2 linked regions of the Homo sapiens genome follow. The protein of the gene in region 1 interacts with the protein of each later gene in a pairwise test. Each region holds a gene or a part of one and is shown on either strand. Other genes may lie near its edges.

Region 1 (3,836 bases):
GATTCTCCTGCCTCAGCCTCCCGAGTAGTTGGGATTATAGGCGCATGCCACCACACCTGGCTAATTTTTGTATTTTTAGTAGAGACGGGGTTTCACCATGTTGGCCAGGCTGGTCTCGAACTCCTGACCTCAGGTGATCCACCTGCCTCTGCCTCCCAAAGTGCTGGGATTACAGGCGTGAGCCACCACGCCCAGCCGTTTTTTTTTCTTTTATAACCCAGATAAATGGATTGCTTCTTAGTGTGATATGGTGGATATATTTAGATTAATTCTTACTCTTTCTTCTTGGAACATTTGGGCCAGTGAACTTTTGGGTCACTGACCTTTTGGGTCACATATGTATACTGAAAATATTTCGAGAGGCTGAGGCAGGAGAATTGCTTGAACCCAGGAGGCAGCCGTTGCAGCAAGCCGAGACTGTGCCACTGCACTTCAGCCTGGGCAACAACAGCAAAACTCTGTCTCAAAAAAAGAAAAAAAAAAGAAAATATTTACTACTACTTCATCACAAGAGGTCACCATTTGAAAAAAAAAGGTAACCGAGTGGCAAAGTAACTATAAATGAGTCTAGAGATTGAGGAGCATTTAAATAGTCTACAAAAACATGTTCTACCTGGAGCTCTAACATGTTTGGGATTTGTTTACCTCTTTAGTAGCTGTGTGTTATTAAAAATTTTTTGAAATACAGTTTTCATTTGAAATGGATACCAGTATACCATTAGGTCTTAGTGTGATAAGTAATTTAACATTTTTGCCTGTAGTTAATTATACAACAATAATATTTAAGAATAGAATTCTCATATGTTCTAAACAAGAGTTCTTTAGAAGAAGATAATAAACTCTAGCTCATATCAACAATAATATTTGATTGCTTTTCTTTATTTAACCTGAAAACTTGCAAATTGATAACAGTCTGTAAACTTTTTCACAGTTAGGGAAAATGAGGACGTCATTTGTGTACTTGCACATTTACACTTATGTATGTATCTATGCGTGTGCTACTATGTCAGGTTAAAAAGTTTCTCTTTATTGAGAAGAACCGACCCTTTTATTTTGGTGAGGGCCTTTTTTTTTTTTTTTCTTTTTTCTTTTGAGACGGAGTCTCGCTCTGTTGCCCAGGCTGGAGTGCAGTGGCGCGATCACTGCAACCTCCGCCTCCTGGGTTCAGGCAATTCTCCTGCCTCAGCCTCCCGAGTAGCTGAGACTACTGGCGCATGTCACTATGCCTGGCTAATTTTTGTTATTTTTTGTAGAGACAGGGTTTCACCATATTGGGCAGGCTGGTCTCGATCTCTTGACCTCGTGATCTGCCAGCCTCGGCCTCCCAAAGTGCTGGGATTACGGGCTTGAGCCACCGCATCCGGCCTGGTGAGGGCCTTTTAAATGTCCTTTCTTCTGTAATGGAATGGCAGTTTTTTTGTGGTTTATGTTTTGTTTAATGTCTGTCTGTGGCAAATAGCAACTCTGTGTTTGTTTCCAAAATACATTTTTGAAATGGTAATGGTTTGTGAAATAAAAAAATCTAAGAATTCATTCTACCTAATGTCAGAGCAGCATTAAACTCTAAAAACAACTGAAGCAGTAAGTTGTTAGCCATTACAGTTTGTTGTCTAGAATTTGGTTTATCTCTCTTTGAATATTGTAGCATCTATGTCAGTTAGGTAATATTGCTTTCATACATAATGACCTGTGATCACTCTATTTCATTAATAGCTCCCTACCTTCATCTCTTTGATGATGCCCACCTAAAGCCATTACCTTCCCATAATGACAGTATACGAGTTTGTGACTTGGAGCTTTCATTCTAAATAAAATTTTAATGGGACAGCCACGGCACTGTGGCTAAGTTTTAGTTAACCAAAATTGGTGATGTGCCCCCTATAACCAGTAACCAGGGGGATACGATTCTTCTTGGCATGAAAGAGAAAAGAACCGATAGCATCTAAAATTGAGCTCCAGTAATATTGCTTCTCTCCTGTAAGTATCATGGGTTAATTTCTTTTTCCCTAGCTGGAAAATTCATATAATGTACTTGTTTTGAGTTTAAATTTTTAAGGTTTCATAAAGTGGAGACATGCATGGCATACATCAAGCATAAAGGAAATCAAGCCATTTTAAATTGAAGAATTTTTAGATAATATTTGTTAAGCTATTCTTTAAATTTGAATATTCTGTTAAAATAATAAAAGCACTTTGCAGACTATGAATTATAAGCTAGTTTCCAAGCAATCCCAACAGATTAAAGCCCTTTTTAAAGAATGTTAGATTAAATAATGAATATGTTATCAGATCACAGCAACTAATACATAAGTTAGCCAGCCCTTCTTTTAGTCTTGAAGCCAGGCCAGACATATATTTGTGAGTCCTCCTGTCTTGAGCCTAGCTTCTGGGTGCGAAATGCTAATTTATTAAACAGAACAATACAACTTATTACTTAAATAAGCAATGACCTCTTATATAAAGCAGTAGCTTCATGCAAATGCATGAAACTAATAAATGGATTAACTGCTTTTCCTGGCATTACCAACCCATCTCTATATTTTTTCCTCATTATCAGGTTTTGTCTTGGATAGCAATATCATAAATGTAAAAAAGGAGTATACCTAAAATATTTTGCAAGTATTCCTAGGAGAACAGTATCGATTCATAATGATAAACTCTTTTTCCAACTTAGTAATATGTCATTTAAATTTTTAACCTATTTGTTGTGTACAGTAGTATATAAAATCTTAATTATTATAAAACTAGCTGGTTGGTCTTAGAAATAAAGTTACTATTTTTTATCTTCTAGATCACAAAGGAGAACTTCCTCGAGGCTGGAACTGGGTTGATGTTGTGAAGGTATATAACATTTATATTCTAGTCTTTAAACTTGTTACAATTATTACCAGCAAATAATGAAATTCTTATTTTTTGTTTTCCCCTTCACAACCTTTGGAATTCACTGGGATGTCTGTTTCCTTTTTTACATTCAGCATGTAAGTATTTTTGAAATACCTTTTACATTCTTCTTTTCCCTGCACTCTCAATTTTAGATCTTTTTTTTTTTTAAGTAATGGAAAATTTGCAGAAGTTAAAACTACAATATAGTATGACTATGTAAGCACATCTTAAGAATGCAGATACTTAGGGGACAGTGGCTCACACCTGTAATCCCAGCACTTTTGGAGGTCAAGGTGGTTGGATCACCTGAGGTCAGGAGTTCGAGACTAGCTTGGCCAACATGGTGAAACCCTGTCTATACTAAAAATACAAAAATGAGCTGGGCATGGTGGCGCACGCCTGTAGTCCCAACTACTCAGGAGGCTGAGGCACGAGAATTCGCTTGAACCCAGGAGGCGGAGGTTGCAGTAAGCTGAGATCGTGCCACTGCACTCCAGCCTGGGCGACAGAGTGAGACTCCATCTCAAAAAAACAGAAAAAGAAAAGAAAAGATAACGCAGATTCTTAAATATGACTCCAAGTTATCAACAATATATGGAAACTGAAGAAAACCAGATGTGGAAAAGAATGTTTTACTTTCTTAGTAGAAATTACTTTTAAGTTTTTGGTTTTTGTTTTTTGTTTTTGAGACAGGATCTTGCCCTGTCACCCAGGCTAGCTGGTGGCATAATCACAGCCCACTGCAGCCTTGGACCTCCCAGGCTTAAGTGATCCTCAGCCTCCTGACTAGCTGGGATCAAAGGCATGTGCCACCATGCCTGGCTAATTTTTTTTTTTTTTTTTTTTGCAGAGACAGATATGTTGCCCAGGCTGTTCTCGACCTCCTGGGCTTAGGTGATCCTGCTACCTCGGCCTCACAACGTGCTGGGATTGCCGGCGGCAGCCACCACACC
Region 2 (2,487 bases), about 42 Mb from region 1:
AAGAGTCAAACTTCTCTTTAACAAAATTGCGAGCTGCATTACTATAAGCATGCTTATTCCTTCACAAAAAAAGTTACATAAAAACCATAAAATAATTTCCTATAGTAGTGCTATATTACATAAATAAACATAGGTGCTCAAATATCACACACCTAAGATAGCTTCAGAGTGAATTTGACTTCTAGGTACTTAAAATTACCACCACTTTAATATTAAGGAATTATAGCTACTCAACTATTTAACAAGGAAGACTCAACAAAAATAAAAAAAAATCACTCTTTATCTTAAATTTCAGTATTTGCTGTCATTAACTAAGGCAAATACCAAATATCAAAATGAATATTGGTCTATTTAAGTAAAACTGAAAAACTTTACCCACATATTTTCCTAAGCTGTAAAATTCCACTTGCTTAAAAGAACACATTCATCTTTTCAAATAAGAAGAGGCAATAAGAAAAATAGACCAAAAAAAAAAAAGATAAACTTTGTCTAAGTATGAAAGCAAAAATCACTTCCTTAGTATCTTAAGGGCCTTACTTGACATGCTAAGGTCCTTAGTCTCCTGAGTTTCATGCCCACATTTAGGACAAGGAGGCTGTTTTCCTTTTTCTTGCTTAAACACTTTGCTCCTTGTATGATCATCACAGAAACAAGCCTGTATAGGAGAAGCAAAATAAAGTAAATAAATAAAAATGTAAAAATATACAAAAAGACAGTATTCAGTGTTTTAAAGATATAGCTTTATTAAGGCAGTGAGATTAACAATTTTGTTGGGAGCAGTCACACTTCTCATTTCATTTTCTTAACAGAAATGGTTTTTGTCAGGACCCTTCTGAACAATGATCTAACAAAAGGCAGACTATATTGAGTATGACATGTAAGTACATTTAGCTGTTCACAAATATTTCAGTACTCATAAGGTCCCTGATGAAATGAAATAATGGTGAACAGCCTATTTACTCTCACACAGTGTATGGTCTAACTAGGGATGGAGACAGTGAAAAGGCAATTACAAGACACTAAGCACTGAACGGGAAGTGCAGAGGGAAGGGCACTAAAGCAGACATGGGATTTGGGAAAGGCATCTTAGAGACACGAAGTCTTAATAGCCATATGAAGAATGGGAGGGCAATAGGGTAAGCCAAGATGGAAAAGTATTCCAGACAAAGAAAACACAGATAATGCCTGAACACCATTTGGTAAAACTAGAACAGAGTTGGAAGATAAATAAGACATAGGGTTAGGAATATAAGAACTAGAGAAACGCTTCTGAGAGGAAGGGCATTGGCTGCATCTGTTTAGTAATCTTTGACGAACGAATGCTAGAGACTAGGCCTAAGGACACAGAAAAATTTGGAAATCTTTACCCAAACTCTTCTAAGCAGGTATATTTTGACATTAATTAAAATAGACTCTCATCATCTTGGTCAGAATGTTCTCCACTAAAAACACAGAGCCAGGATTCCAGAGAAATGTGCACTAGCCACAGCTCTACTAAAAGGTGACTGGATGACCATTGGAAAGTCATGTAAGCTTTCTCAACTTCAATTCCACAGTCTCAAAAATAAAAGAATTAGACTACATAATTTTAAGGTCCCTTATAAATTAATTATAGCTGCATATAAGCCAAGGACTGGTGGAGGGGTATAGAGATTAAAAACAAAATCTAAAAAGAAAAAAACGCATTGGTATACCTTACAACGGAGACATGAGTGCTGACCAAGCCGATTGCATGAAACACCTGTGGGAAATAGATTAATTTTAAAATCCCGTTATTTGGTTCTTAGAATTTTCTTTTGTCTTTTATCAAATCACTAAAAGCTTGCAATGGAATATAGCCTTATAGACAGCTGCCTGTCTTTTGGGTTCAAATGCTATAAAACACACAAAGCTCCCATGCTGCAAATAAAATAATTAAATTTATTATTATACATTCTGCAAAAGGCGACGAAAGGCTCAAAAATGCTATATACTTCGAGATGCTCTTTTAATCTGAGAATTTTATATATAAATATTGCAAGAATTATATACACATGCATACACATTGTGTGTCTATGTGTGTGTAGTATGTATGTTGTATGTATATCACAGAGATGACTTATCTACTTTAAATTTATAAATAAGTATAATAATTAGGATTTCATACCAGAACAAGAACCAAATTAAAGGAAGAGAATACCTGGGGAATTTCGGTCTTTTTCCTATAATAGTAACTACTATTTAAAAAGGGCTTTTTAAATGCCAAGTACCACATGCTATTGTTTTATATGGTGTCTCATTTCAATGAACCTTCCAAGAAAAAAACTATGTGTAAAGATGATACTATTACCCAGTCAGCAATGCTGGCTCTCAACTGGAAAATACGTGAGAATTTTGTGTATAGGTTAAATACAGGTGCCTGGCACCCACCACGGACTTAAAAGATAGAATCTCCAGGGATGAGGCCTGGACATCTACATTATTTTTAAAACCTCCACAGGTATTTTT

The links.
Region 2: the proteins of RWDD4 (region 1) and ZNF330 interact in binary tests that used the Homo sapiens proteins (3 or more experiments, as listed by UniProt).

Annotation. Positions count from the first base shown.
Region 1 is NC_000004.12:183,645,493-183,649,328, reverse strand, and holds part of RWDD4 (RWD domain-containing protein 4), read left to right. Parts: intron 1-2,791; coding exon 2,792-2,841; intron 2,842-2,975; coding exon 2,976-2,978; intron 2,979-3,836.
Region 2 is NC_000004.12:141,230,693-141,233,179, reverse strand, and holds part of ZNF330 (zinc finger protein 330), read right to left. Parts: intron 1,742-2,487; coding exon 1,695-1,741; intron 656-1,694; coding exon 538-655; intron 1-537.